Regions from separate parts of the Homo sapiens genome. Here region 1 is linked to region 2. Evidence: fine-mapped expression QTL. A gene starts in region 2. The other region holds a variant in brackets. All regions are shown on one strand. Distances are between the middles of the regions.

Region 1 (12,358 bases), 76 kb before region 2:
CACATGTAAAGCAAGGGTTTATTTCTTAACTATTCCTTTCTTTAAAGTTTTAAACATACACAAAATTACAGAGAAAATAATGAACTTGCCCAACCCATCCCCCCAATTTAATGACAATCAACATTTTGCCACTCTCGCCACACACAGCCTTTTTGCCCTTGCTGCTGCTGTCACTACAGCATTTTAATACAAATATAAGGAGCTTTAATTACTTAAATGGTATCACTCCTAACCATTTTCAAAGAAATGATTCAGAAAATGCAACAATAAAACTTGCAGGGCAAACCGCTGCCTCCAAGAGTGGTGGTGGGTATTGCCATTCAAAGCCAGCCCACTTTTGTTGGTGATGTACTGAGATGGGTACAAGCTTGAAACCAAGCACTGGTGTTATTTTTAAAACTCCACGGAAGTTTCTTAAAACATAAAACATGCATCTACCATATGATCCAGCCATTCTACTCCTAGATGTTTACCCAAGAGAAAAGAAAATAGAAGTCCTGGCCGGACGCGGTGGCTCACACCTATAATCCCAGCATTTTGGGAGGCCAAGGCAGGCAGATCACCTGAGGTCAGGAGTTCAAGACTGGCCTGGCCAACATGGTGAAACCCCATCTCTACTAAAAATACAAAAAATTAAGTGGGCATAGAGGCACGTGCCTGTAGTCCCCAGCTACTCAGGAGGCTGAGGCAGGAGAATTACTTGAACCCAGGAGGCAGAGGTTGCAGTGGGCTGAGATCACGTGACTGTACTATCCCAGGCAACAGAGTAAGACTCTGTCTCAAAAATTAGAAAAAAAAAAAAAAAAAAAGGCCAGGCGCAGTGGCTTATGCCTGTAGTCCCAGCACTTTGGGAGGCCGAGGCAGGTGGCTCACAAGGTCAGGAGATGGAGACCATCCTGGCTAACACGGTGAAACCCCATCTCTACTAAAAATACAAAAAATTAGCCAGGCGTGGTGGCGGGCCTCTGTAGTCCCAGCTACTCAGGAGGCTGAGGCAGGAGAATGGTGTGAACCCAGGAGGCGGAGCTTGCAGTGAGCCGAGATCGCGCCATTGCACTCCAGCCTGGGCAACAGAGCGAGACTCCATCTCAAAAATGAAAAATAATAATAAATTAAAAAATTAAAAAAGAAAAAGAAAAGAAAAGAAATAGAAGCTCTTACAAAGCCTTGTCCACAAATGTTCACAGCAGCTTCACTGGTAATTGCCCCAAACAGATAACAACCCAATTGTCCATCAAAAGGTGAATGGATAAACGAATTGTGGTCTACTCACACAAATAGAATACTAGTCAGCAACAGAAAGGAATGAACTACTGATACATGCTACACCATGAATGATCTCAACATAATTACTCTGAGTGAACAAGCAAGGGCAAAAAAAAAAAGAGGACTGATTCCATTTATACTAAAGTCTAGAAAATGCAAACTAATCTACACGGACAGAAAGCAGACCTGTGATGGGCTGGGAAGAGCAGGGGAAGGGAGAGATTACAACGTCGTGGCCGGGTGTGGTGGCTCACACTTGTAACCCCAGCACTTTTGGAGGCCGAGGTGGGTGGATCACTTGAGGTCAGGAGTGCAAGACCAGCCTGGCCAACACAGCGAAACCCCGTCTCTACTAAAAATGCAAAAATTAGCCAGGCGTGGTAGTGGGTGCCTGTAATCCAAGCTACTCGGGAGGCTGAGGCAGGAGAATCACTTGAACCTGGGAGGTGGATGTTGCTGTGAGCCAAGATCGCACCACTGCACTCTAGCCTGGGCAACAAGCAAAACTCCGTTTCCAAAAAAAAAAAAAAACAAAGTGGCATGAGGAACCTTTTGCCTGGGATGGAGATGTTCGCTATTCTGACTGTGATGGTGGTTTCACAGGTTGTACACACATAGGAAACTCACCAAGTTGAATGTGTTAAATCTGTGCTCTTTCCTGTATGTCAATTGTATCTCAAAGCTGTTTTTAAAAAAACTGGGCCAGGCACGGTGGCTCACACCTGTAATCTCAGCACTTTGGGAGGCCGAAGCGGGCAGATCACGAGGTCAGGAGATCGAGACCATCCTGGCTAACATGGTGAAACCCCAACTCTACTAAAAATACAAAAGAAATAAGCCGGGCATGGTGGCGGGCACCTGTAGTCCCAGCTACTTGGGAGGCTGAGGCAGGAGAATTGCTTGAACCCGGGAGGCGGAGCTTGCAGCGAGCCGAGATCACATCACTGCACTCCAGCCTGAGCGACAGAGGGAGACTCCATCAAAAAAAAAAAAAAAAAAAAAAAACGAAAACAAACCAACCAAAAAAACAACTAAGACTCTGCAGAAAGCATCAACCACAAACCGGTTTTCGCTAGGAGACAATTTTATGAGTTTTCTCTTATTAAAAAGATGAAATAAAAATACTTTTCAAGCAATTTAATTGCTGGTAACCTACTTCTTTTTGTTTTAATTTACATTTTTATTCTTTTAGAGACAAGTCTCACTCTGTCGCCCAGGCTAGAGTGCAGTGGCATGATCATGGCTCACTGCAGCCTCAAAGTCCTGAGCTCAAGCAATCCTCCTGCCTCAGCCTTAACTAGAACTATAGGCATGCACAACCACATCTGGCTAATTAAAAAAAATTTTTTTTTTCTTTTAGAGATAAGAGTCTCACTATGTTGCCCAGGCTGGTCTCAAACTCTTGGGCTCAAGCAATCCTCCCTCCACCTCAGCCTCCCAAAGTGCTGGGATTACAAATGTGAGCCACTGTGCCCAGCCACCTACTTCTTCCTTCTATGGCTAGGTGGTAAGTAAGGGGAAGGCAATAAGAACCACTATGAAGGACCTTGAAGGAGTTTCTATTAACATCTTAAACCTAAATTTTAGTATTTTAACAAAGCAGGCACTCCTATATAAGAAAGCCATGCCCCTCTGCCTCTTTGCGAAGAAAAAAAATGCCTGATAACATTTGTAAACAGCATTTAACACCTGGGAGTAGGGAATCACAACTCTTCATGCCAAAAGGGACTTCAAAGTCCCAACATTAGAAGAAAAAATGTTTTATCGTGTGCATGACATGTTTCTGAGTCTTCCTGGGGCCTAGAAGATCATGGAGGCTCTTTCTCCAGCAGCCATAACTGCCCGCTGGTTAATGAGAGACGTGCTACACAGCCACTCCTTACCTTTTCTCTCGGTTCCTTAGGAAACTCGCCGCTCAGCTCAGCACTCTTCTCATATTTGACTTCGTTGCTGGAAGCTGAACTTGAAAACCTGGTACAGAGATCTGAGTTACCTTCATGGAGCTGGAAGCTGTTATTCCCCCCAGCCCACACACCAGCTCAGGAGGCCAGGCCAAGTAACCTTCAGAAAGGACATTTCCTTTCCACTTACCAAAAGGAGAACTGCCCAGTGGGGAGAGCCTACCTCAAACACAGCATTACTGGGGTGGAGGAGCCCCAGCTGGGGGAAGACACCCAGGTGCTAGTCCCAGCTCTACTGCCTCTTCACTGGGGGAGCTTGGTTTAGGCTTGTGACCTCACCTGAGCCTCTGTTTCTTCATCTATAAAACAGGGATAATTAACACCTCCCCATCCCTTTTATGGGGCAGATAAGAGGCTACTCAAGGCCCTAATAGCTACGTGAGGGCGTTTAGGGAAGAGTGAAGATGCCCCAGGAGGGATAATGAATGGCTGTTGTTAGCAGTGCCAGGTAAAACAGCAGCCCCACCTCAGAGCAGCCCCCAGACTGAAGGGTAGTGGGCTGTCAGGGAATGTGTGGGGGCCCAGGTCTGTCTCTGCCTCTCTGGATCACCAGGGCCCTCTTTGGGCCTCGTTTTCCCCACCTCAAAAAGGGAAGAGGGTGTGGAGCTAGAATCTTTCCATCTCTGGAGAGCATTCTGGTGTAAATACCTGAAGATGTAGCACGTGTTTAGTTCAAAGCTGGGGACTGAAGAAAAGGAAAGGGAGAGAAATCAAACCACTTAAACTTAACCCATACTCAGCAACCCAGGGTCTGTCTCCTGGGATATGTGAGGCTGAGAGGAGTTCTGTCTAAACTCAGAGCCTCAGTTTCCCCACCTGTCAGATGGGGATAATCACACGGCCTCTCCAAGGCTCTTCCATGACATAGTGAGAGGAAGCATATTAGGACCGTGGCATAGGTGTCCTTCTCTGATATCTTAATTCAGGGGTTGTCAGCCCCGGCTACACATAAGATCGACTTGGAAGCTTTTAAAAACTACCAAAATACAGGCCGGGTGCCGTGGCTCATGCCTGTAATCCCAGCACTTTGGGAGGCTGAGGCGGGCAGATCATGAGGTCAGAAGTTCGAGAACAGCCTGACTAACATGGTGAAACCCCGTCTCTACTAAAAATACAAAAATTAGGCCGGGCGTGGTGGCTCACGCCTGTAATCCCAGCACTTTGGAAGGCTGAGGCGGGCGGATCACGAGGTCAGGAGATCGAGACCATCCTGACTAACACGGTGAAACCTCATCTCTACTAAAAATGCAAAAAATTAGCTGGGCGTGGTGGCTGACGCCTGTAGTCCCAGCTACTTGGGAGGCTGAGGCAGGAGAATGGCGTGAACCTGGGAGGCGGAGCTTGCAGCGAGCCAAGATCGTGCCACTGCTCTGGCCTCAGCGGCAGAGCGAGACTCCGTCTCAAAAAAAAAAAAAAAAAAAAAAATTAGCTGGGTGTGGTGGCGCGTGCCTGTAATCCCAGCTACTGCGGAGGCTGAGGCAGGAGAATCACTTGAACCCGGGAGGTGGAGGTTGCAGTGGGCCGAGATTGCAACACTGCACTCCAGCCTGGGTCACAAAAATAAATAAATAAATAAAAATAAAAAATAAAATAAAAACTACCAAAATAGAACACCCTCCCCAGACCAAGTGAATCGGAATCTCTAGGGGTGGGGCCCAGGCACTGGTATTTTTTCCGGTTATTCTAAAGTACTGAGGGCCAGTGGTCTAGCTTTGGCTTGGCTGGCTGTCCTGGTTCCCAGGGCCGGGAGGGCAGTCTGCCCAGAGATCCTGCCTTTGCAAGCTCCACCCTGGACAAAGTATGTCAGTGGCATGCATGCCATTAAGAGCCAGTCGATCATGCCGAGTGGCATCTCTCTGTTGTGGCCACTTGTGGGAAAACAAAGAAGAGATGTCGGAAGTGGGCCAAGTTTAGAATATCATTATTAACCAACCGACTTAGAATATCATTATTAGCCATCTGACTTAGAATATCATTATTAACTAACTTAGAACATCAGTATTAACCAACTGACTTAGAACATCAGTATTAACCAAATGACTAAGAATATCTTTTTTGTTTTTGTTTTTTGGTGTTTTTTTTTTGAGACGGAGTCTTGCTCTGTTGTCCAGGCTGGAGTGGAGTGGTGTGATCTCGGCTCACTGCAACCTCTGCCTCCCGAGTTCAAGCGATTCTCCTGCCTCAGCCTCCTGAGTAGCTGGGACTACAGGCGCCTGCCACCACGCCTGGCTAATTTTTGTATTTTTAGTAGAGACAGAGTTTTACCATGTTGGCCAGGCTGGTCTCAAACTCCTGACCTTGTGATCCACCCGCCTCGGCCTCCCGAAGTGCTGGGATTACAGGCATGAGCCACCGCGCCCGGCCTAGAACATCATTATTAACCAACTGACTTAGAACATCATTATTAACCAAATGACTTAGAACATCGGTATTAACCAGCTGACTTAGAACATCGGTATTAACCAACTGATTGACAACATCGGTATTAACCAACTGACTTAGAGTATCATTATTAACCAACTGACTTAAGAGTATCAG[T/C]ATTAACGAACTGACTTAGAATATCATTATTAACCAAATGACGTAGAATATCAGTATTAACCAACTGACTAGCCCAAGTTACCTTGACTCCTCTGAGTTTATTTTTTGGGCCACTCATAAAGGCTTAGGCCCAATCTTAAGCGTTCTCTCTCTGACTTCAGGGAAGAAAGGCTTAGCTATGGAGACAGGCTGAGCTGGAATGCCATCCAGCTCCCACCTCCCCACAGTATTTCACCCTTCTGCCCTGCCTCCATGAAATGGGCACATACCGCCCACTTCACTCACACACTACATCTGAAGCTGAGAAAAGCCATGAAAATTGGGCTCCGGGCCCCCCGGCTGGCCATACCCAGAGGAGAGCTGCACTGCCTCTCCGCACCTCACCTTTCTCATCTGAGAAATGGACACTGCCACTACCTCCTCTTGGGCTATGGGTAAACTGAGGGGGGGTGACAAGTGCCCAGCATGGAGCCTGGTTCCGTCTTCCTCAGGGTGTGTGGGTGGGCGGCTGAGAGAGGGGTGTGGGATGTGCCTACTTACAATTTGGTCAAATCCGCCGACAGCGGCCGAGCCTGGAACGTCCTCCTCCTGACCTCGGGCTTAGCCTCTGAGCTCTCGGCAGTCCAGCCTCTGATCCGTTCCTGAACGCTCACAACCCCTTTCTCCGGCTCTGGTGCCGCCGATGGGGACGCAGGGGTGGCCAGGGGAGATTCAGACCCCACTGCCAAGGCCAAGGTGCTGTCCTCCCGAAACAGGCTGATGCACTTCCTGACACTCCTCCTGGAGGCCCACTCTCCCCCTGCCGCGGCCTCCCCATCCGCCACTCTGCTCTTAACCTCAGCAAGTTCTAGGCCCCTTCCCAGCCTGGGTGAGGGGGACTCAGCAGCCTTCTCTGGCTCTGGGTCCAGCTTGGCCTTTTCTTCCCAGGGACTCTGGTCATTGCTGGGGGTGACCCCAGATGAGCCCCCCACCAGGGCTCTGGGGCTGCCCATCTCCGGCTTCGAAAGCATCTTCTCCTTCCGTTCACGGATTTTCTTGGCCACCTCCAGGAAGTCCAAATCAGGATCATGAAGAGGAGCCTCCGCCTTGACCAAACAGTCCCTGTCCAGCTTGGACGCTGCTCTGGGCCTCTCTAGCCCAGCCATATCCCCTGCTGTGGGTCCACTTCCTTCATCGGCCACCTTCCTCAGCAAGGCCTCTTTGTTCTCAAACCGGGCCGTGAGGTCCATGGACAAGGGCCTGGGCTTCCTCACCCACGTCTTCTCGGGAGGGGTGGGTGGCACTTTGCCCACTGTGGCCGCTGCGCCGGGGCCTGGCTTCTGAGGCTGAATGGACTCCGTGAAAATGGCAGACACGGGCCTTCTCTTCAGGCGAGGCCTGGGCTCCACAAGGGGGCGTGCCGTGTCCTCCACACTGCTGGCCTTTGAGGGAGGATGGTCTTGGCCTGCCTCCTCTTGGGGTACAGGTGGTTTTGTGTCCTGAGACAGGGGAGCTGACCGGGGAAGGGTCCCCGCAGGCTTCTGGGTGGGCAGGGCGGGCTTGGCAGCCACCTCAGGCCGGGAGCCGGACACACCTAGCTTGGCCTCCTCCGCCCCCTCACTAACCGCCTTCCCCAGAGCGGGGCCGCTTTTGGTGGTTTCGAAGAGAATCATGGTGCTGGAGCTGGGCCGCAGGAACACAGCCTTGTTGAAGAGGGGCGAGCTCGTCCTCGGGCCCTCCCCACTGCCCACCTCCTGCCCCACCAAGCCGGGCATCCTGTTGTCCAGATCCTTTGCTGCTGGCTCCTCAGAGAGCCCCCCAGAGGGGGAAGGTCCAGTCGAACTGGGCCGCAGAGACGGGACAGGAGATTTCACGTCCTGCTCCTTCGAGAAGGGTTTGGGGGCGAGCCTTGGCAGAGGGAGTAACCGGGCCGGGCTCCGCAGGGGGCTCTTCGCTTCCAAGATCCGGGCTGGGGGAGCCCCAGAGGCTTCGCCGGCCTGGAGGAAGTAGGTCCTCGTCAGGGTCTCCTCCTTGCCCATCTCACCCAGGCCTGGCACGGCCGTCAAGGGCGTTATGGAGCCCACCTCGACCCGCGTGGCCATGGTTATGGTTGTGGATTCATGGGGGTTAGGAACTTCAAGAATGGAGAAGCAATTGCTAAACAAACAAAACAAACAAACAAGTAAATTTGGAAAACAGTCAGTGTCTGGGTTGAAGCAGAATGGTTTAGAGAAATGGGACAGAGTCCTGAGCCCCAGATTCCATACGACAGCCCTCTGCTGACCTCACCCGGCAGGCTTGGGCCTGCCTCTCCCCGTCTCTGAGCTCTGGACGAGGGGAGTGGACTAAACGCCCATCCCTGAAGTTCGTTCCAGCTCCAAGGGTGTAGAAAAGGCATCAACACTCTGGAGGACTTTCCCCTGACAGCTAATCTAGAGGCCAGCACTTAATGGCAAAAAGCAGTGATCTCTGCTACACAGATAAGGAAACCAGCTCAGAGAGGCCAAGTAACTGGAGTCACCCAGGAAGCAAGAGGCGAAGTCAGGACTTAAAACCAGGTTTGACACCAAATTCACACCACACATGCTCCTCCCTGAATAGGCCTCAGTGGGAGCGTCCTCACATTCCCTCACTCCTGTTACCCTGTTTTCCCACTGCAGAGCCTGCCCACATCCCAGGTGATCCTAATCACAAGTGTGTGCTAAGCATCTAGCACAGAGAAGGCAAGTAACCTGCTGCAGGTCACACAGCAATGCAGCTCAGGAGTGCCTGGGAGCACAAAGCTGGTTAGTGACCTTGGAACCCATGCCCTAGGCACCAACCCCACCCAATCATCCCTTTGTCCCTTTTCTTTCCCCTCCCCCACCCTTCCAGATGCCATAAAAAGAAGCCATTCTCATTTTTCTCACTCAACCTGCTTTCATTATTTGTTTGCTTTGTGGTTCTTTTCTGTTGAACACGCATATTATGCTGACTGCCTTCATACTCTTAATAGAAAGAGAAACGCCCAACAGTGAGGTCTTCCCATGAGTGAGATCTCGAGCTATGCCACATGCTTCTTGTGTTTTATACATCTCATCCTCCTCACAACCCTATTTAGTGGGTACAATTAGGAGACCCCATTTTGTAGTAGCTTGGGGCATAAGCCTCTTGTTCACCCTGCTATGAGATCTGTTTTCGCAAAGCAGGGGACCTCCTCTCTCATTAACCCTCCAGCAACTCCAAAAGTCAAGAATGAAGGAATGATCGTTATCTCCCTCATGGAGATGAAGGGAAAGGGCCCAGAGAGGTCGCCAGACTTGCCTACGATCACCCAGCTGAAACCTAACCTCAAGTCCACCACCCACTTAGCTCTGTCTTTTTTTTTTTTTGAGACCAAGTTTCACTCTTGCTGCCCAGGCTGGAGTGCAATGGCGCGACCTTGGCTCACAGCAACTTCTGCCTCCCAGGTTCAAGCCATTCTCCTGCCTCAGCTTCCGGAGTAGCTGGGATTACAGGCATGTGCCACCACGCCCAGGTAATTTTGTGGTTTTAGTAGAGGTGGGGTTTCTCCATGTTGGCCAGGCTGGTCTCGAACTCCTGACCTCAGGGGATCCGCCCACCTCAGCCTCCCAAAGTGCTGAGATTACAGGCTTGAGCCACCACACCCAGCCTCAGCTCTGTCTTTTTAAAAATTATTTTTTATTCCTTTCTGGTCTTAAAAAGTGCCAGGTAAGTTGCTGTTCTCGATCCCCCAGGCTCTCTTCATGCCAGTGTTTTCTTCCCTGTGAAACTGCCCCCAGCCAGCCCCCACCTAGATGGACTAAAAAAGTAGAAGGTATTTTAGTTAAACACAAGCCTCTCCACTTCCCTTCCTTGGGGCCCCACACTGCTCCCCCGGCTCTGACTCACTCAGCAGCCTCCAGGAAAGAAAGGCAGACAGATTTTGATATTTTCTCTTCCTTACACGCTCGATGGTGCTAACAGATTCCATCTCCCCAAACTGGAGAACACTGTCTAGACACGGTTAGAGGTAGAATGGAGGGACAGATATGAAGAATCTGAGAATTGGAGAATTTCCATACACAAAGATCCCAACCAGAGTTCTAAGGCTCCAGAATCCCACCCAGAATCAGGGCCATTGGCCTTTTGGGAGAGCAGCTGTGACCTCTGGAAACCCTGATTGAGGATACATATGTAATAGCCAGGACATGAGACACAGAACAATGACAGGATTCAAAGGACAGAGAGAAAATTCTCTGGCAGAACTCACAGGCACTCTCCATGCCCTTGGACACTCCAGCCCTCAAGCTTGGGTCAAGCATGGGCCCCACTTACCCAAGCTGGCAGGCCCTGGGTCAGGGGGTGTGACTGCCGGGAAAAGCCAGTAGTGTCACATGTCATCATGAATGGGGCTGTCCACACACTTCCATGGCAGAAACAAGAAGGGGGAAAGAAGACTCGTCCCAGCAGGCTGAGTTTCAGCAGGTCTAAGGAGACACAGGATGACAGCCTCAGTTCCGGAGTTCTGGCAGTATGGGAACAGACGGCACAAAAGCTTTCAAGCTCCAAATGCATCCGCTGGCATCTACTCCAGCTTGTAAAACGTATGCTCCTTTTGGCTTTTCGATTTTGTAGCCTTATATGTACGTGTGCATAAATAGTGCTGAGCCCACAGTACGTGCTCAATAAAAATCTTCCCTGTTCTCTGATACATTTATTAAGCACCTACGGTGTGTACAAAGATGAGCATGAAACATCCCCTGCAACCATGCAACTCACAGTCTTCTGTAAGAAACACACATACACACACAAGCAATTACAACTGGGTAACAAATGTCACTTTTTAAATGCAGGATGTGGGGGCAAATAGGACTGATTGCCTAGAATTGGAACTGGTGGTCCTGCATAACTCACTTGACTTAGAGGAGGTAGCTACTGAGCATTCGAGGTGCTGACTCACTTGGTAGCTGCTACCAAGTGATGTGCTTCACTTGGTAGCTGCTACCAAGTGATGTGCTTCACTTGGTAGCTACATTAGCGGTATTTGGACATTGTACCTCTTTGAAGCCCTCCAAATGCCTCCTCAGGGCCTTTGCACATGCTATGCCTGTTCTCTGGGACAACCATCTTGCTCACACACAGACACAGACCACAGTTCACACATCTCTGTCTCCCTTCAACCCGGTACAACCCCCTCCTACCTGTTCACAGAGCACCACATACACTCGGAGGCTTGGCAGGACTTAGCATAGCTACACTGTTACATTTAATACGACATCATCCTTCACATCAGCCTCTCCCATTCAATGGTAAGCCCCGCCAGAGGACACCCCAAATCCCTAGTGGCTAGCACAGCAGCCTGGCACATAAAAGCACCAGATACATGATTACTGAATAGAGAAATAAATCATTGCTGAGTTAATAAGTAAATGAATGAAGAAATATTCTTCTGCCCCTGCTGCCCACTCTCTAAGATGCTAAATAAGTCCAGATACCATGAGTCTCATGCCAAATGACTCTAAGCAATCTGGGACATAAGATGAGTTACTCTAGCTGTGGCTGTGGCTACTGAATGACAGAATCAAAAAGCTGTGAAGTGCTCAGCCAGAGGCTCAATCCACCAATCCTCACCCAGGGACCCCTATCAGTTTCACAAGCCAGAGGCTCAATCTACCAACCCTCACCCAAAGACCTCTATCAGTTTCACTGGGCCACACAGAGGAGCTCCACCCCGAGGGCAGGCACCTGCTACATCCACATTAACCTCACACTGTCACACCAGCTCACCTGCCCAAATGTGGAATGAATGCTTCTCTGCATGGATTTTCCTGGGAAAAGAGTCACCAAGAGCAACTGTTTGCTGAATTAGGATCAATGGTACACAAATGTCACCCCACTTTGGGAACCTTGAACCCACCTCAGGGACTATACTGCATGGAAGTAAAAGGAGAAGGACAAGATAAATTAAGTCCCTTGGTCCACGCTCCTCTACACCAAACAGTGCCTCTGTGACCCGTCATCTGCTTTGTATCTTGAACTGCCTCTCAAGTTACCATTGCAAATGCCTAGCAGATGTCTGATATGTAAACACAGTTGCACAAATGAGTCAATGAATGAATTAATAAATCAATGAACAAAGAAAAGTAAAAGGAGTTTTTTGGGATTTTTTTTTTTTGAAACAGAGTTTCACTCTGTCACCCAGGCTGGAGTGCAATGGCGTGATCTCAGCTCACTGCAACCTCTGCCTCCCAGGTTCGAGCAATTCTCCCGCCTCAGCCTCCTGAGTAGCTGGGACTACAGGTGCATGCCACCACACCTGCCTGATTTTTATATTTTTGGTAGAGACGGGGTTTCACTATGTTGGCCAGGCTGGTCTTGAAATCCTGACTTTGTGATCCGCCCGCCTCGGCCTTCCAAAGTGCTGGGATTGAGCCACCGCACCCGGCCTAGTAAAAGGAGTTTTTAAACCACCATAGTAGATGGCTCCGTAATATTTTAAAGTCCTAGCCAAACCTAGAAACCTATGATTCTCAGGTTTTCATTTAACCTGCTGTAAAATACAGGGAAACCAATTTAACTGTATGCTTTGAAGTCTTCTTTTAAATGTTATCACATATGTTACACTTGATTTA
Region 2 (12,358 bases):
GACAGAGTCTCACTCTGTTGCCCAGGCTGGAGTGCAGTGGCACCATCTAGCTCACTGCAAACTCCACCTCCCAGGTTCAAGTGATTCTCATGCCTCAGCCTCCTGAATAGCTGGGATTACAGGCAACTGCCATCACGCCTAGCTAATTTTTTTTAATTTTATTTTTATTTTTTTTTAGTAGAGATGGGGTTTCACCATGTTGGCCATGCTGGTCTCAAACTCCTGCCCTCAAGTGATCCGCCCACCTCTGACTCCCAAAGTGCTGAGATTACAGGTTTGAGTCACTGTGCTTGACCAGCTTCCTTTTATTTTTAATTTTAATTTTTTAAATTTTTATGTATTTATGTATTTATTTATTTGAGACAAGGACTCACTCTGTCTCAGGCTAAAGTGCAGTGGTGCAATCAAAGCTCACTGCAGCATCGAACTCCTGAGCTCAAGCAATGCTCCTGTCTCAGCCTCTGAATTAGATGGGACACAGCCTGACACACTGCCAGGCTAATTTTTTTTCTTTTCTTTTCTTTTTTTTTTTTTTTTTTGATACGAAGTTTTGTTCTATCGTTCAGGCTGGAGTGCAGTGGCACAATCTCGGCTCAGGGCAACCTCCACCTCCCAGGTTCAAGCAGTCTGCTGCCTCAGCCTCCCAAGTAGCTGGGATTACAGGCATGTGCCACCATACCTGGCTATTTTTTTGTTTTGTTTTGTATTTTCAGTAGAGAGAGGGTTTTTCCATGTTGGCTAGGCTAATCTTGAACTCCTGACCTCAGGTGATTCACCTGCCTCTGCCTCCGAAAGTGCTGGAATTACAGGTGTGAGCCACTGTGCCTGACCGCCAGACTAATTTTTAACCTTTTTTTTTTTTTTTTTAAGAGACAGAGTCTTGCTCTGTCACCCAGGCTGGATTGCAATGGCATGATCTCAGGTCACCACACCCTCCACCTCCGGGGTTCAAGGGATTCTCCTGCCTCAGCCTCCCGAGTAGCTGGGATTACAGGTGCCCCACCACCACGCCTGGCTGATTTTTGTATTTTTAGTAGAGACGGGGTTTCACCATGTTGGCCAGGCTGCTCTCGAACTCCTGACCTCAGGTGATCCGCCCACCTCAGCCTCCCAAAGTGCTGAGATTACAGGCGTGAGCCACCTCACCCGGTCTTAAATTGTTTTTTCAGAGACAGTCTCGCTATGTTGCCCAGGCTGGTCTCAAACTCCTGGGCTCAAGCAATACTCCCATCTCAGCCTCCCAAAGCGCTGGGATTACAGACAGGAGCCACTGTGCTTGGCCTTAGCTTCTTCTTAAATGGCAGCAGTTTGAGTAGTGAGACTAGGCAGAAGCACCCCTCCTTGTGTTGGGAGCCATGCAAGTGGGAAGGGCATGGCTTTGAGGCAGACAGCTTTGGGTTCAAATCCCAGCTCTTCCACTTTCCCGCTGCGTGACCTCGCAGCACATCAATAACCTCTTGAAGCCTCAGTTTCATGAACTGTAAAGTCGAGGGTCTCAAAAACAGGCACCACCTGGGTTTGTTGTAAAATATTAAAAAAAAAAAAAAAAAAAAAGGCCGGGTGCCTGTAATCCCAGCACTTTGGGAGGCCGAGGTGGGTGGATCACATGAGGTCGAGAGTTCGAGACCAGCCTGACCAACATGGAGAAACCCTGTCTCTAATAAAAATAACAAAATTAGCCAGGCGTGGTGGCACATGCCTGTAATCCCAGCTACTCGGGAGGCTGAGATAGGAGAATCACTTGAACCCAGGAGGTGGAGGCTGCAGTAAGCCGAGATCCTGCCATTGCACTCCAGCATGGGCAATAAGAGCAAAACTCCGTCTCAAAAAAAAAAAAAAAAAAAAAAAGGAACAAAAGAGCTTAGCCCAGATTCTGGCATAACAGCGCAGCTCTGATGCACTATGTGCTTTACCTACATTCTCCCCAGTCCTCCCATTTTACAGAGGAAGAAACTGAGGTCCCGGGGGGACATGGCTTATCTAGGTTCACACTCCTATAATCTGGATGGGTGAGTGGAAGAAGGAGAGTGAACTCCTGGACAGGGATGCTCCTGCCCTCCTCTCTGTCCCAAACCTGCCAAAGCCTTCAGGTTTAGAAATTCAGGGAGTGTCTGGGGTATAAAAGGAATTTTTGCTGCCCATGGTCTAACTTTTATTCATTCAGCACATCCTGAATTCTGGGTATATCAGTTGGCATGCAGTTCTCCAGGCGATCTATGCCTTTGCCAGTGCTGTTGCTTCTGCCTGGAATGTCCCAGCCCTCCCTCCTACTCATCCTTTAAGACTCAAGTATCACCTGTGGGTCACTCCCTCTCTCCCCCCAACACACACAGGCACACACCAGGTTGAGCAAAGCACCACCCACCTGGAACTTATCCTGATGACAGGCTATAGTGATAATAATCATACCACCCCTTACAGAGCATAGACACGGGGCCTAGCACTGTCCATACACTGCTTCAGTAAACTCACATAAGAACCTTTTGAGAATGGGAGTATCCTATCATGAGCCCTTTTTACAGATAGGGAAGTCGAGTCTCAAAACCATAACCATGCCCAAGGCCACAGCCAGGAGCAGGCAGGGCCAGGGTTTGCCCTGGACTATCTCTGGCTGATTCCCTCCCTCCCTTCTTTTTTTTTTTTTTTTTGAGACAGAGTCTCGCTCTCTCGCCCAGGCTGGAGTGCAGTGGCACTATCTCGGCTCACTGTAAGCTCCGCCTCGCCAGTTCACGCCATTCTCCTGCCTCAGCCTCCCAGGTAGCTGGGACTACAGGCACCCGCCACCACGCCCGGCTAATTTTTTGTTTTCGTATTTTTAGTAGACACGGGGTTTCACCGTGTTAGCCAGGATGGTCTCGATCTCCTGATCTCGTGATCCATCCGCCTCGGCCTCTCAAAGTGCTGGGATTACAGGCGTGAGCCACCACGCCCGGCTGGCTGGCTCCCTCCCTTCTATCTGCCTCCTCCGGGAAGGCTCCTTCAATTTATCCCTTCCACACCCAACTGAAACCCACCTTCCTCTGTTGCTTCTCTACGGCTTAACCTGAACCCAAATATTCACTAGTTGCAAGTTGGAAGGGAGTTCAAATTCCTGCTTTGCCACTGCTGCCTGGCAAACGCCTCACAATGCCACAGAGGCCTGCATCAGTGAAATGGGAATAATGTGCCCCATGTCTCCCCACAGGAAGTCCTTGAGGACTGGCATGTTTTATACCTACCCCTGAACAGGCACAGGGTTCTAAAGCAGGTTTGCTAAACTGAATTCAGTACTGATACCACTCCCTCTGAGGGGTTTCCTTACCCCAGGTAGACTGTTACACCCACCTTGAGGAAGGGATCTTCAAAGTGAGTGGCTCTCTAAATGTAACACTGATCAATGTCAAAGTTGTCAGTGAACACCCCTCCAACACCATTGGTCTCTACGTCCAGTCCACCGCGCACCGCGGTCTCTCACCAGGATTTTTCTTTTTTCTTTTCTTTTTTTTTTTTTTTTTTGAGACGGAGTCTCACTCTGTCGCCCAGGCTGGAGTGCAGTGGCATGATCTTGCTTCACTGCAAGCTCCGCCTCCCCGGTTCATGCCATTCTCCTGCCTCAGCCTCCCAAGTAGCCAGGAGAACAGGCACCTGCCCCATGCCTGGCTAATTTTTTTGTATTTTTAGTAGAGATGGGGTTTCACCATGTTAGCCAGGATGGTCTCGATCTCCTGACCTCGTGATCGTCCTGCCTTGGCCTCCCAAAGTGCTGGGATTACAGGCGTGAGCCACCGCGCCTGGCCTCTCACCTGGATTTTTCTAGCAGCCTGCTTACTGGCCCCCAGCCTCCTGGCATGACCCTCCGATCATCCAGCCTCCCCACACCAGCCAGGGCAAGCTTCCCAAAACACACATCTGACCCTGCCCCTCACCTGCAGAGACCCTTCCACTGTGATCCACAGCGCCCCACGCTCCAGGAATAAAGTCCAAACCACTAAGCATGGCTGGCCTGGCCCCAGTCAACACCCTAGGCACTCACCTACCTCCAGGCTTCTGCACAAGCTATTCCATTTCTGCAGCCCATAACACCAACCTCTTCCCACTGGCTGTCGAGAAAACTAAACTCTCTGACCCGCATCCCTCCTTATAGCCAAAGGCATCAGCCCCTCCTCCTATGATCATAGTTCTCCCCTTCCAGACAAATGCATATGTTCACAAAGACTTTCAGGGCATAAAGTATCCCCTTAAGGATGTGGCTGCTAGCCTCATCTTTGACACAGTGTCTTGAAATATTTGTTGAAGGAACAAATGATAAATAAATGAATGAATGCACATATAAAATATCCCTGTGAGGCTCTGTTTCTGAGTTGGTCAGAGATGTAGCCTGGTGAGGAGAAATGCTCAGAGCCAGACAACTGGCTCCTTCATTCTCCTGCCAAGGTCAGCCTTCAATAAAAAACAGCCCCGGCCAGGCGCAGTGGCTCATGCCTGTAATCCTAGCACTTTGGGAGGCGGAGGCAGGAGGATCACCTAAGGTTAGGAGTTTGGGATCAGCCTGGCCAACATGGTGAAACCCTATCTCTACTAAAAATACAAAAATTAGCCGGGCAGAGTGGCGGGCATCTGTAATCCCAGCCACTCTGGAGGCTGAGGCCGGAGAATTGCTTGAACCCGGGAGGCAGAGGTCGCAGTGAGCCGAGATCGCGCCATTGCACTCTAGCCTGGGCTGCAGAGCGAGACTCCATCTCAAAAAACAAAATAAAACAAAACAAAACAAAACAAACGAAAAAAAGCAGCCCCTAGGACCTCCAGTGGGGGTAGGGGCAGCTTCCAGCCTCTGAACCTAGGGTGAGAACTGTATCCCCAACATCAAGAATCAGTACTAGACTGCAGGGCAAGCCGACTGCTCCATAGCTGGAAAGTAACTCCAAGAGGACAAATCCTGAGTTGCCCTAGGCCACACCATTTCTACAGTGCTCCTGACATAGGTGCTCAATACACGCTGGTTGATGGAGCCAGCCAGTTCATGTGCCCAGCTGAAATGTATGTCCAGACACTGCATTGAAACTCTGCACTTCTCTTGGGTAATTGCACCCTTGTCAAGCATGCAAATCCTTTAAAAAGGATCCCCCTGCCAGAACCACCAAGATCTGGGCTTGTGTCTGTACAAATTCCTCGGGAACTGTCCCTGGCTGCAACAGGAAGGAAGGAGGCGCCAGAGTCTGGGGGTGCACACGTTTGTCCAGGAACCTTGATGGATTAGCAGAGGGAAAGCCAGACCAAGGGAGAAGCTTTGTCCAAATGTCTTGGTTACTCATTAGCCAAACCTCAGAGCTTCTCTCTGCAAGGGGGGATCAGAGGGGCAATTAACCCATTTGGAAGAAAGGTTAAGCTAAATAGCTCTCTAATCCTGCGGTTTCAAAAGATAGCAAGTAGGGTTTCTGGAATCTTTAGATACTGTAAGGCAAGCACAGGGGATGGGGCACGGGAAAGGAGAGGCCATAGACTGAGGGAGGCACTGATACTTATAGAGCCCCTACCTGTTTCATACCCTTCATTCCGATCCATCCTAGGCCAAGCCCATTTTGCCCAGAGGGTCCCCATCTGGATTCAGATAGGTTAAGTGTTTTGCCCAAGGTCACAAAAAAGGTGCAAAGAAAGTGTTTTTCTTTGTGCAACAGGTACAGTCCTTTCCCTTCCAAAAGATAATGGCTGCTCCTGGCTAGAGAAAGTTCAGTCCCGGCAGGCAGGAAGCCCTAGCCACCTAGGCGTCGCGCGGTGGAGGTCACACGCCTGCTCCGGGACTGGACAAACAGCAGGGTTTTAAGGCGCGGCGTCCCCACTCCCAGGCGAGTTTGTGCCAGCAGGGTGTGAAAAGGTCAGGCTCGGGTGGGGGTCAACGAGCCGCTTCCCATCCCGAGGGCCCCACCCGTGAGCCCGGGTGGGCCGCGCCGCCATCGGGGCGGGGACCACGCGGGCCTGCCTGGTAACAGGGGGACTGAGGCTTAATCCCATCAGGGCGCCTCCGCCCTGGGAAGACGAGCGGAGGGGGGGCGCAGGCCAGGCCGAGAGGACGTGTCCGGAGCCTCCGCGTCCGAGGGGCCCCGCGCGCCGCCCCTCTCACGCCCCCCGAACCACCGCGCTGTCCTCCGGGCTCCCCTCGACCAGGGTTCCGTCTCGCTCGCCGCCCTTGCTTCCCACTTCCACCTCCGGGGCCTCCAACCCGCACAAATGTCCAGACCCTAGCAGCTCCAGGCTGAGTAACCCAGATCTCCAGCGATCCCTCAGCTCCTAGCCACGGGATCTCTCTGAATCCATTCCCAAGGCTCAGGCTGGCATGGGAGGAGATTGATCCTCTCGCTCCCAGTCTCGAATCACCCTTCGCCGTCACCCCTGACTGGGGATCCAGTGGGACCCCAGGCCTCCAGCGCCCGATCCCCTCCAGGGATCGACTCCCAAGTCGCCAACCAGGTGGCACGTGATCCATTGGTTGCCCTGTGCGGGATCTTCCCGCGGGATCCACTCTCAAGTCTCGGGAGACGGATTCCCCGGCTCCCAAACCGGGATCCTCCCTCCCTGCAGACCCGGAGTCTGGGGAAATCCTCCGGCTCCCCGCCTCTTCCCCGGCCAACTTTGCCAACTTTTCTCCCGGGGCCTCGGCCGGGCAGAAACTTGGCGGCCCTCGCCAGCCGCCGTCACCCCCAGCTACCTCGTCGGCCGGGGACAGGAGGCGGCCAGCCGGCCCCCACTGCCCGCAGCCGCTGCGCAACCTACCGTGGAGCCACCGCCAGCCCGCGCCGCGCCGCCACCTGCCCGCAGCCCGCGGCACCTGCCCTGGGAGCCCGCAGCCCCGCGCAGCCTAGCCTGCTGGGGGCGGGGCCTCGAGCGGGGACGCGCCCCCGTCACCATGGGAACTGCCGCCGGCCGCGCCTGCGCGGAGGGGAGCAGAGCAGGCAGGACCCGAGTCCGCAGTGGCGCCTGGGCCTGGGACCTCTCCGGCGGGTCAGAGGTCACGACTCGCTTGGACACCCCTGCCGGAAGCGCTCCCGCCCCTCGAGGCCCGACCCCGCTCTGTCCAATTGGGAACTTTGCTCCGGGTACCCTCCCGCGTTCCCTGGATGTTCCCCAGTCACCAGCCAGGATCCCCCGCCACCGGCACCGACCCGCTGCCCAGCCGGCGACCCCGAGAGCCTAATGCAACCCAGGATTTCAGGAGGCGCTCCATAAATGTGGGCCCACTGACTTGCCTGGGCTGCTGGTGCCGGCCCGGGGGCGGGCAAGGTCTGTGCGCGGTGCTGGCGCCTCCTCGCGCCAAGCAAGGGCACTGCACCTGAGAGTTCGCTGGAGCGCCTACTGTGTGCGCATCCTCCTGCCATTATGTTGTGGGTGTGAGTTGTGGGGTAATGGGTACAGGAACTTGTGGACAAGTTGAGAGAATCGTAGGAAGTCGCCTCTGAAAGAGAAAATACCTGTTCTGTTATCCGTTACTCATTTCATTCAGCAGATCTTTATTAAGCACCTATTGCATGCTGGGTGCTGGAGAACCCAGTGGTGGGCAGCTGGCAAAATCCAGGCTGTTGTGCAGCTTACAGATATTCAAACAAATAATTTCACGAGTATATCAAATTGAATCTGTGACATGTGCTCCTATGGGAAATGTACAGAGCATGAATAACTGGAGGACCTAAAATCAATGTGCCTTTATTATAAGCAAGATAGACCTCAATAAAAAAAGAGAAAGAAAAGGACATCACAGGCTGCGCACGGTGGCTTGTAATCCCAGCATTTTGGGAGGCCGAGGCGGGTGGATCACCTGAGGTCATGAGTTTGAGACCAGCCTGGCCAACGTGGTGAAACCTCGTCACTACTAAAAATTACAAAAATTAGCTGGGCGTGGTGGCGGATGCCTGTGATCCCAGCTACTCGGGAGGCTAAGGCAGGAGAATGGCTTGAACCCGGGAGGTGGAGATTGCAGTGAGCCAAGAGCGCGCCACTGCACTCCAGCCTGGACGACAGAGCAAGACTCCATCTCAAAAAAAAAAAAAAGAAAAAGACATCACATTGTGTGGCTTCAGGAGGATTGGTGGGGAGACTTCTTGCCTCATTTTGCTCTTAAATTGTTGGGTGTGTGTAAGAAACAAGGGTAGCTCCTGTTCTCCACACCGTTTGCACTGCAACCCTTTTGAAGGTCTGATCATCACCATCAGACCCAGGCAGGGTAAACCCTGTTTACCAAACAGCAGCCCGAGAACCCCCAACTGACTTGTGTACAGTGCTGGAACCCAGGAATTGGGGGGCAGAGGTCCCATGAGGTCTCATGTCTCAAGACATTCTCCTTATCATCTGGGTATCTTGAGTACAGTCATCAAAAGGATCAAACCCAGTTGCTTTTACAGACAACTACCACTTCCAGAGAGAAGTCTGTGAGTAGGAGACCAGGAACGGCTGGGTTGAAACTTAAAATCCTTCAAAATCCACGTAAGTCAGGCCTTTACATGACGTGTATGTTATACCAGCAAAGGAAAATCGTTGATTGTCTGCTCTTCTCTCTAGACCTCCTGGAGGAAGGGACTTCTGTCTGTCTTTCACCTCCGATTCCCAGTGCCTAGAACAGGGCTTGGCACACAATAGGTGCTCAAAGAATGTATGCTGAGTGCATGAATGACCAACAGCTGATGACATGCCATCTGCTGCCCCTCCTCCCTAACCTTATGGGAACTTCCTGTCTCTCCTGGGCAAATCTCCATGAACCAGAATGCGTAGGCTGGGGGTTCTGTTCAATGGAATGTTCCATGTTTCTCAGCTCCCCAGCCAATGCAGGCTTCCACCTTGGCATCGCCTCTCCATTCCAGAACATAAGGATGGGAGGGGACAAGATAGTCCTCCTCCTGCCACCCCCCATGGAGACTCAAACCCAGACACGTCCCCAGCCCTGACCATCAACCCTACTCTCTGCCCCAAGAGATGCCCAGCCCAGACCGGGTGTCAGCTCTTCTATCCCTGTCAAGCTTTAAGGGGATTCCAGAGGTGCTGAACTACAACTCCCAGAGTCCTCCTGAACCTGGACCCAGAAGGGGCAGGACTTCCTGGTCAGCCCCCACCTTAGCTGGTTCCCCCTGCATTCCTGTGTCTTCCCGCCTAGGTGAGAGATGCCAGCTCGCACATACCCAGAGGTAGACCCTGACCAAAGAGGTGTCAGGTAGTACAGTTTCCGGAGGCAACACCCCTCCCTCCCCCAACCTCACCACTCCCAGCCCTGGCTTTTCTTTTTCTAAGAATAGAGCACAGTGCTTCCCAGGGATTTTCCCAGAACCCTTTCTTCGCAGTCTTTTGTCCCCTCCTCCAGAAGGTCCTGATTAGCCTGTGTCAGCTCTGTCCAATAGAACTTTCTGCAACGATGGAGATGTTCTATATCTGCACTGTCCAACATTAGCCACAGATGACTATTGAGCACTTAAAATGAGGTCAGGGAGACTGAGGAACTAAGTTTTACATTTTATTTAATTTTAATTAGTATAAATTTTAAAATCCACACGTGGCCCTGGCTACCATATTGGACAGTATAGCTCTACACCCCACACACCCCTTGCAAAGACCATGTTCATGCATTTTCGTTGGTGCATATTTATCCATTTTGTTTTTCCTAAAATTTATCTGCATGTTGAGTGTGAGAGCCGGTATGTTCTTTGAAATGTTTTCCCTCAACACTAGTCCTATGCCCATGCCATTACCCCCACCAGGAAGTCTTTGCCCTCTGCCTCCCCATCATCTAGTTAACAACTAAATGTCCCTCAGATCTTAGCTTCTACATCAGTTCCTCTAAGAAGCCATCCCCAACCACCAAAACTGATTAGATGTTGCAGAATCTGGGGCTGGTGCCCGCACTCATTAAAGTTCTGATCACACTGTAGTGTAATTGCCCAATTACTTTTCACTCACTTTCTAGGCTGTGAGGTCCTTGTGGGAAGAGACTAGCATAGTACCTGAAACAGAGTTGTCACCCAATAAATATTCATGAAGTTCAATGTTGCATAAATGTTTTCACATGCTGGAATCCAGCGTTTGGTTCACGGTAATGATACTAATGAAGGCTATCATTTATTCAGCCAAATATTTTGCCTGTGCTATCTCATTAAACTCCACAACAACCTATAAGACGTGCTCTATTATTATTATTACTTAATTTTTTTCGAGACAGTCCCGCTCTGTCGTCCAGGCTGGAGTGCAGTAGCACAATCTTGGCTCACTACACAGCCTCGCCCTCCTGGGCTCAAGCCATCCTCCCGCCTCAGGCTCCCGAGCAGCTGGGACTACAGGCATGCGCTACCATGCTTGGCTAATTTTTGTGTTTTTGTAGAGATGGGATTTTGCCATGTTGCCCAGGCTGGTTTTGAACTCCTTGTTCAAGCGATTCACCCACATCAATCTCCCAAAGTGCTAGGGTTACAAGTATGAGCCACTGTGCCCCGCTGAGATGCTCTATTATTATCTACCTTTTACAGATGAAGGATCTGAAGCTCAGAGAGGTTAAGTAAGTTGCCCAAGGTCACACAGCTAGTATTTCAGCCTGGCTCCCTGGAAAACAGAGCCCAAGGAAAATTTTATGTACTAATGCTTTATTAGGGATAAAATTCCAGCTCAGTAAGGGTGAAGGGAAGGGGACTTCAAGGCAAGGGAGGAGGGAGAGCAAATATAAGACATGCCTTACTAGGCTGGCTACAGAAGCCACGTGAAACAGACCATGGAAGGAATGAAGGAAGCGCGAGGACTTCATCGGCTGGCGCCTCCCATCCTCTGTCCACGATTAGTCACTGTTGGGCCCAACTGTGTTATCTGTGCCTCCAGACAGCCCCAAGGGAAGCCAATTCCATACACAGGGCTTCACCTGAGCCTAGAAGAGGAGGGTCCAGGGCTCCCTCCCTTGAAGCAGGTCAGGTCTGCTTGAATGACAGCGGGAGATGCAGGCCTAGGTGGCTAAGTAGATGCAGCAACTGACCCAAGCCGCCTGCAGGCGGAAGCAAGAGGAGGCTTGATCTTGTCCAGAGCTGCTGGCTGGCTGGGAAGGACGCAGCTGAGCACACCTGAGAAGGTGCATCAGTCAAGCCTGATACAGCGAGTAAACATCACAACTGAAATCCAAATCCAGTTTAGGCTAACTCCAGTGCCCTTCAACACATATTGATTGAAAGGGGAAAAATGAATATATGAATGATTGAATGAGTGACTGGGGAAAAAACCCAGGCAGCCACCACTCCAGACGCCCTCATTTTACAGGTAGAGAAACTGAGGCCAAGGAGGCAGTGATGCCCCAACTCAGGTCACACTGACTGAGGCGGCAGAGCTGGGACTTGAATGAAGCCTGAGACACGGCTTCACTGAGATTTTCTGCCTCTAACTGGCTGGGAACCTCCTGCTTCTGGCAATACCAACTGCCAGGTGCTCATTCGTTAATCTACAGGGAAAAGCTCGCATTTCCTGTGCACCGAGACGATGTCTTTTGTTCTCACCTTCCTAGCAGCCATCTCCCCTCTGCCAACAGCATCTCCGTTTTCCTCCAGGGAAGAATCCCACCCGCTACACTCAGTCCATGTCGTTTCAAGGGCGGTAAGCCTCGCGACACCCTTACTTGATCCTCACTTTCCAAACCTTAACCCCCAACCCTAGGACACAGGATGTAGGTCTGGCCAATCAGAGCATCCCATTTGCCTGGCCACAGTGATTGATTCGTGGTAGGCATGGGACCCAAGTTTGTCCATTGAGTGTTAATCACAGCACTTGCTGCAATAGTGTGCAAAGAGAAGCTTTCTTTTCTCTGGGGTTGCTGAGTCTCGGAATGTCAGCCTGGAGCCACCAAAGGGCAATATTGTTAGAGGGAATCCACCTAGAGAGTGAAGCCAACTGAGCAGAAAACAGAACTGAGAGCTGGAGAGAGAGAGGGGTTCTGAAGACATTGCTTATTTACCTGGATCCCACTATGCCTGAAGCCCATCCCAGAGAATTTTCAGTTACGTGAACCAATACATTTCTCATGTCTATTTGAGTGGTGCTTCCATCACTTATAGCAAAAGAATACCAGGCCAGGCGCGGTGGCTCACGCTTGTAATCCCACCACTTTGGGAGGCCGAGGTGGGCAGATCACAAGGTCAGGAGATCGAGATCATCTTGGCCAACAAGGTGAAACCCTGTCTCTACTAAAAAAAAAAAAAAAAAAAAAAATACAAAAAATTAGCTGGGCATGGTGGCAGGAGCCTGTAGTCACAGCTACTCAGGAGGCTGAGGCAGGAGAATGGCGTGAACCCAGGAGACAGAGCTTGCAGTGAGCCGAGATCGCACCACTGCACTCCAGCCTGGGCGACACAGTGAGACTCTGTCTCAAAAAAAAAAA

Evidence for each region. PIP is the estimated chance that this variant, and not a neighbour inherited with it, causes the effect.
Region 1: its variant is fine-mapped to the expression of KIAA1671 in CD4 T cells (CEDAR, PIP 0.95).

What each region holds. Positions count from the first base shown.
Region 1 is chr22:25,023,488-25,035,845 of GRCh38, reverse strand. KIAA1671 reads right to left here. Exons shown (of 13, transcript NM_001145206.2): 2 at 10,062-10,213; 3 at 6,306-7,901; 4 at 3,150-3,237. The coding sequence starts at 7,846. Among named protein-coding and RNA genes, the nearest start is that of KIAA1671, 77 kb to the right of the region's middle. RefSeq lists an enhancer at 8,699-9,898. The variant T/C (reference allele first, on the strand shown) is at 5,766.
Region 2 is chr22:24,947,162-24,959,519 of GRCh38, reverse strand. It overlaps KIAA1671, which reads right to left and starts at 6,804. Exons shown (of 13, transcript NM_001145206.2): 1 at 6,748-6,804. RefSeq lists an enhancer at 633-1,132 and a silencer at 6,738-6,987.